2 linked regions of the Homo sapiens genome follow. The gene in region 2 interacts genetically with the main gene of each other region. Each region holds a gene or a part of one and is shown on either strand. Other genes may lie near its edges. The genes, in order: NF1 and EIF2AK3.

Region 1 (3,500 bases), on a different chromosome or scaffold from region 2:
AGCTCTAGACTAAGTTGCTTTCAAGTGATAATTGCCTTCATTTTAGGCTTGGGAAGATACACATGCAAAATGGGAACAAGCAACAAAGCTAATCCTTAACTATCCAAAAGCCAAAATGGAAGATGGCCAGGTAAGTCTGTAAAGTTGACTTTTGTCTGTTAACTGATCTGCTAAATATATGTACTTCACTTTGATAATCTTTCAAGAGTCGCTCAGTAAAGTAAACATATAGCTGTGTGAAGACTGATATTTAGTTGTGGTTTATCTAGACCTGTACTTTGTAATGTGGTAGCTACTAGCTATGTGTGACTATTTAACTTAAATTTTAACATAATTAAAATTAAATAAAATTTAGTTCCTCAATCATATAGTAACCACATCGCAAGTACCAGTAGCCACATATGACAATTACTTACTCTATTGGACAGCAGAGAGAGAAAATGTTCCTGTCATCACAGAAATACTGGGCAGCACTGCTAGAGACTGTTTGTTGCAGAGACCATTTCTTTACCTTTTCTTGCTCTTTCTCCCTTCATCAGGGTGTTTCACAGAATTTTCAGAAAAGGAGCAACAGAGGTAGAGATAAATTAACATGGAAACAATTCATTTTGCTATTTTGTTAGGTATTCTAATTAAGGAATGTCTTAGGCAGTAGATTGATCCCATAGAGTAAATGAAATTTTAAAATGTGGACAGTTCATTCAACTATTACTATTGACTATATTATCTGTTACTTTGGAAATTAATGATCAGTTAGTGTTTGTGTGTATTTGATTTGTAATGTTCATATTGCTCTCATTATTAGGTGATTTATAAAAACTGGTTGTTCCTCCATGGTGTTTTTGTCATGCTTAATTACAATAGGAAAAAGTTATATTTTTACGAAGCAAATGTGTGTACCTAATACCTTTATTTGGAGGGGACATGTAGCTTTAGAATGAAAGCTTTTGGGGGGATAACTGTTTTATATAATTACATACCATACAGTTCACCCATTTAAAGTGTCCAATTCAGTGACTGTTTTTAATGTATTCACAGAGTTGTGCAACCATCACCACAATCAAGTTTTAGAACAATTTCATCAATTGAGAAAAAAACCCCGTACCCTTTAGCTATCTCTGCCTCTAACCACCCCCCACCCACTTTCTTGCCTCTCTTCCCCCAACGTCTCTAGCCCTAGGCAACCATGAATCTACTTTCTGTCTTTGTAGATTTGCCTATTCCGGATATATTCTGTAAATGGAATTATAGAATATGTGGGCTTTTGTGATTAGCTTCTTTCACTTAGCATGATGTTTCCAAGGTTCATCCATGTGAAATCAAAACTTTTTAAAAGAAATTTGACACTCGGCTGATTATATTAGTGTATGATAAAAATAGATCAGTGGCTCTTTAAAAATGTATATGGTAATTTTATGGGTTGATTTTAATGTATATTTTACATTTTTTGTACTTTTGTCATGGAAGAAATGTTGGATAAAGCATAATTTGTCAAGTCTCAACTAATTAAGGTTTAATTCATGCTTTGCACAAAAATTTTGTGTTTAGGCTGCTGAAAGCCTTCACAAGACCATTGTTAAGAGGCGAATGTCCCATGTGAGTGGAGGAGGATCCATAGATTTGTCTGACACAGACTCCCTACAGGAATGGATCAACATGACTGGCTTCCTTTGTGCCCTTGGGGGAGTGTGCCTCCAGCAGAGAAGCAATTCTGGCCTGGCAACCTATAGCCCACCCATGGGTCCAGTCAGTGAACGTAAGGGTTCTATGATTTCAGTGATGTCTTCAGAGGGAAACGCAGATACACCTGTCAGCAAATTTATGGATCGGCTGTTGTCCTTAATGGTGTGTAACCATGAGAAAGTGGGACTTCAAATACGGACCAATGTTAAGGATCTGGTGGGTCTAGAATTGAGTCCTGCTCTGTATCCAATGCTATTTAACAAATTGAAGAATACCATCAGCAAGTTTTTTGACTCCCAAGGACAGGTAAAGTGTTCTCTTATTTTTCACCTTTCTCTATGAATAGAGTGACTTGTTTGAAATAAGCCTTTTTCTTTCAGATTATTTAAATTAGGTACTCACAGTTTTTAAAAATTTCCAAAAAATTGCAGAAAGAAGAGTCATCTCAATGTAGGGGTCAGCTTGCCTCTTAGGAACTCTGGTGTGTATGTGTGCCTAAGGGTATACGTGCCCTGTGTATGGGTACGAGTGTCTGCGTATATCTGTATGCTTATTTGGCTCTATGCCTGTGGGTGCACTTACTCTGTGTGTTTAGATCAGTCAGTTTCATCTCTCTAGGGGGTCTGTCTTCTGGGCATTGATGGCAAATCATTAATGTATTTGTTCTTTCTTTAGGTTTTATTGACTGATACCAATACTCAATTTGTAGAACAAACCATAGCTATAATGAAGAACTTGCTAGATAATCATACTGAAGGCAGCTCTGAACATCTAGGGCAAGCTAGCATTGAAACAATGATGTTAAATCTGGTCAGGTAAGCATTCTACTGAAATGTAGCAGAAACATTTTAAGAGATAAGAAAAACCTCTTACACACTGATACTGGTAGTAATTGATAAAATAACTGGCCATTCTTTACTGCACACAAACTAGGGTGTGACAGTAAGGTAGCCAGAAGTTGTGTACGTTCTTTTCTAAATAAATATCTTATTGTTTTCAAACTTACATTTAATTCGTTTTACTTGATGACTAAAGTATTTAGAATGCCTTCTCTTTTGTCTATATCTGATAATTTTTTTATTGTTTCTATGTCTATATAGGTATGTTCGTGTGCTTGGGAATATGGTCCATGCAATTCAAATAAAAACGAAACTGTGTCAATTAGTTGAAGTAATGATGGCAAGGAGAGATGACCTCTCATTTTGCCAAGAGATGAAATTTAGGTGAGTTCTCAAAAGAGCAATGTAGGGTCTTGTAAATCTTAATATGTCCAATGAAGTACAGAAAAAGAGTAGATATGCGGTTATTGGTAGAAAGGAGGACATGAAAAGAGAGCAATTTACATGTTTGTTTTTCTCTACATCTCTTCTCAAATTTCCCTAAGCTTTGTGCCTGTGACAATGCTCCCTTTTTCTAAAACTGTGCTATACTTGAGCTAAGAATTTGATTCTATTTCCAATCTGATACCATAACTAAGGGCCATGATGGAGGATAAATATCCATGTTGCTTGTTCCCTTCTGGCTTTTATGTCTGTGATAGCAGTATCTCTTTTATAAAGTCGTCATGTCACTTAGGTTATCTGGCAAATTATTTGCACTATAAGAAATCTTACGTGACTAAAGGTGTGTGTGTGGCTTCAAAAACATTGTTTGCTGTTTCTCTTTTCTCCACCATTCTATAGGAATAAGATGGTAGAATACCTGACAGACTGGGTTATGGGAACATCAAACCAAGCAGCAGATGATGATGTAAAATGTCTTACAAGGTAAAAAAAGAATGACCTTCAAGTATTAGTGGGTTTTACTGTGAGAGTTAT
Region 2 (3,500 bases):
CTCTGCGGGTAATATGACCACCATTCATAGCCCTTGAAATGAGGAAAAAGGAAGCCATTTAGCTCATGAAATTGAATTTCATCATGTTTCAAATACTGCCAGAAAATAACATTGCATTCCCAAACTCTAAAATACCATTAAACGATTTTGACTTGGAAGCATGAAGTTATTGTGTATAAGATCTATGGTAATAATCTGCAGCTCTCCAATAAATAACTTTGTACCAGAGGCAATAATAGACTATCCTGCATTAAATGTCATCTTTCTTCCCAACTCCCAACATCTGATGGCAGTTGTTATTTACTGAACCCTATAATAGACAAGCTTTTTGGCTCTCCAGTATCTATCTCCCTGTGCTTCCAGCAGAAGTATCTTGACTTTACTTTGGGAACTTCCTTCTTGCTGACTGTGCAGCAAAACCCCACGGTTAGTGTGGAAGGCATCCATGCTCTAAAAGTTGCTTACGCCAATCCATGGAATCCCATTGCCTGGCTAGGGATTGTTGAGGGATGGGTAGGTGTCCTTGGTTTAAGTAGAATAAAATTTCTGATAGTGGGAAAAAGCAATACTTTTCTCTCCACCCTCTACCCCACCAACTCCAAAAGACTTAAATAGAAACAAGAAATGGGGAGGACAGAAACCAGGTTCTGGCTAAATCACTTGATCTCAGCTAAAGCTTTACCTGAATTCTCAACAGTTTAGCCATGTGGGCCAACAGATTTCCTTTTCTGGTTAAGTCAGTATAAACACTTTTGAGTGCAAAGAAAATAAAATTCAAAATAAATGGTATGACCATCTAGAACATTCAGGCATTGTACTGAGACTATAACAGGTAAAAGAAACAGATATGGTTCATACCCCATAGAAACCACAGAATAAATAATCCAGGTGTGATGAGAATAATGAAGAAGGACCAGGTTTCTGTCAGAACAGTGTATATCAAGAGGAACTGAGAAAAGTTCAGAGTGGAGAAAATAGAAGACTAGAAGTTAGTCTGAAGAGGCAGGAGCCAAAGTCCTGAAGACAAAAATGTGACCAAAATATAACAGGGGGAGAGGGCCTAGAAGGTTTAACATTGAGCTCAAAGATTTAGGTCAGAACGTAGCAAAATGTACAGCTTTTTCACCCAGGAACAAAAATCTTGGCTTTTTTTTTTTTTTTGGTTGGGGGTGGCGCACTAGAAATCTTTAAAAGGAATTGTCTTCTATTTAGAAAGGAATAAAACTTTCTGATTTCTAGAAAAACTAACAGGAATATTAACTTTCTTCTTGCAATTTTTCTGGTGCATAGACAATTACAGAAAAATCTTTAGACAACATTGTAGCATTAAATGGATATTTACCAATATCTCATTTACATTATAAAATTAGCAGAAGAATATTCATTATTAGTGAAAACATGATTCATTGTCTTTCAAGTTGGCATTTGTGTGTACAGCAAGTGTTAAGTACAAGAAGAATGTGTATTTCAGCTAGCTGTTTCCCACCTAGTGATAAGCGTTTACTATATTCAAACCTAACTGCTAGTATTCTCTCAAATTAGGGGTGTGTGGTCTCCTGTAAACTGTCTTCTCCAATCCAACCAAATAATTCATCTCTGAACTTTTCATTCAGTGCAGAACAATTCTTGGCAATCAGTTTGGGCCCACGTCAAAATCACTGAAGCATAATGATTTATATGACTAAATAACAATTATATTAAAAAATAAGAATTATTTCTAATTCCTATTCTTGTTACCCTAAAACTCTTAAAATATACCCAAGAATTTGAAAACCTACTGCTGATTTTAGAAGAAAATAACTTGTGTCCAAATAGCTACTTTTGTGCCTGAAACAAGTCTGTTTTAAGTCTGAAAAGACTTAAAATGGATCCACATCTATCAAGACTTTAAGCTACTTTCATCAGAAAAGTATTTATACATTCACTCCACATCTACTGGTGATGGCTAAGAGTATATGGAATGTGGGAAATTAGTTAAATAAAAGTTCCATGTACTTATTTTTAGAAACACTACTACGGAAATGTCATGTTTTAGTAAGACTCTTTAATAATTTTGCATATTATATTACTGCAAAATTCACTACTGAATATATTGAAAATAGAATCCAAGGTTTTAGAGCTGTAAACAGTCATCTGTTAACTATTTGCTACCTTTCCCCATTCGGCTTCTTACCCCTTCCCCCAAAGTCTAAACAGTTCAGAAAAAGAAGCAAAAGTGTGGAGATTTGCCCCAATTCAAGCTGGCTAATGAAGGAACCCATGTCTCTCCTTCCATTCGGATCCCTTTCACCATGCTGCTTCAGAGCCCTGGAGGTATTGGTGTCAGGGTTACTCAAAACCATAGAAAAACAAAAACAAACAAACAAACAAAAAAACAGGCTATATCTGCTCATGGTGGATTTTACCTAAAGATTCTTTTTTCTTTTTTTTCCCTCACCTGGACTACTGAGAATACCTTTTACAGTAAAATGAACACAAACACATTACTGAAGACAATGAATGCATGGTTTGCCTAAAGTTTTCAGACATAAGACTTCTTATTCTTGCAGCAGGCCCCTTCGAGGCTACTTTCTCAGACCTCTGCTCTCAGATGCTTTTACTCTCCCCAACTCTTAAGGATCCTTCAGAGTACTGCAAGTACTGCTCTGAATCACAAAACGTCAGATTGAAACCCCAAGGGTGATGCTCCACAAATACAGACCTTGAGGTCCCTGTGCATCAGTCCTTTACTGTGAAGAAACTCCACTGCCTCTGCGATCTGCAGGAAGATGTGCAGACACACGCTCCTCTCTCTCTCCTCTATGGTACATCGTCCATTCATCCAGTCTTTGAGGTTTTCTTTTCTGCACAGCTGCATTTGAATGTAAAGATACACCTTTGGTGAACTGGGCTGGAGTTTTTCTGTGGTGTTTTTAGTGAGATCTAAACTTAAAGTGGTTGGTCTTGGAGGAGAAATAGACAATGTAGCTTCAGAAGAAGATTTGCTACTGGTGGGCTTGAAAGCAGTTAGTTTATTAGCACAATGGTTGCCAATATGCAATCGATTAGTTTTCGGCTCTTCTTTACTGGAAGCATTATCACAGCCAGAATCTTCAAATACTATTGAAGAGGAGGTTCTCTCCCTTGACCTTACATAAGGAGAAGCTTCAGAAGGACAAAGTTCAAAGGAGTGCCCCTCATCATTGCCATCCATAGTCCCATCTTCCACATCACAGTCTGTAAGGCAACTGTCCTGGAGGTTGTATGCTGCATCCACTGACTCACTGATGTCCTCATGGTCCATTCCTGAGAATTCCAGTGGTGAGAACTGGCTCTCAGATGAACTTGTCTGGTCACAGGAAATCCCTACTGAAAAAGACCTGCTTCTTTGTGGTGAAGGAGCTATGATTTCAATATGTTCTTTTGTAGCGAAAGGATCCATTCTGCGTATTTTAACTGATGGTGCATCCATTGGGCTAGGAGAGCTGAGTGGCCAGTCTGTGCTAAAAGTGGGAGAAATA

Evidence for each region.
Region 1: changes in EIF2AK3 (region 2) and NF1 together harm fitness more than expected from each alone (negative genetic interaction), as found in Homo sapiens cells (one large-scale study listed by BioGRID).

Annotation. Positions count from the first base shown.
Region 1 is NC_000017.11:31,227,477-31,230,976, forward strand, and holds part of NF1 (neurofibromin), read left to right. Parts: intron 1-46; coding exon 47-130; intron 131-1,548; coding exon 1,549-1,989; intron 1,990-2,358; coding exon 2,359-2,498; intron 2,499-2,783; coding exon 2,784-2,906; intron 2,907-3,365; coding exon 3,366-3,449; intron 3,450-3,500. UniProt on the Homo sapiens protein: Stimulates the GTPase activity of Ras. NF1 shows greater affinity for Ras GAP, but lower specific activity. May be a regulator of Ras activity.
Region 2 is NC_000002.12:88,571,965-88,575,464, forward strand, and holds part of EIF2AK3 (eukaryotic translation initiation factor 2-alpha kinase 3 isoform 1 precursor), read right to left. Parts: exon of another isoform or gene 3,483-3,500; coding exon 2,702-3,482; exon of another isoform or gene 2,550-2,701; intron 1-2,549. UniProt on the Homo sapiens protein: Metabolic-stress sensing protein kinase that phosphorylates the alpha subunit of eukaryotic translation initiation factor 2 (EIF2S1/eIF-2-alpha) in response to various stress, such as unfolded protein response (UPR).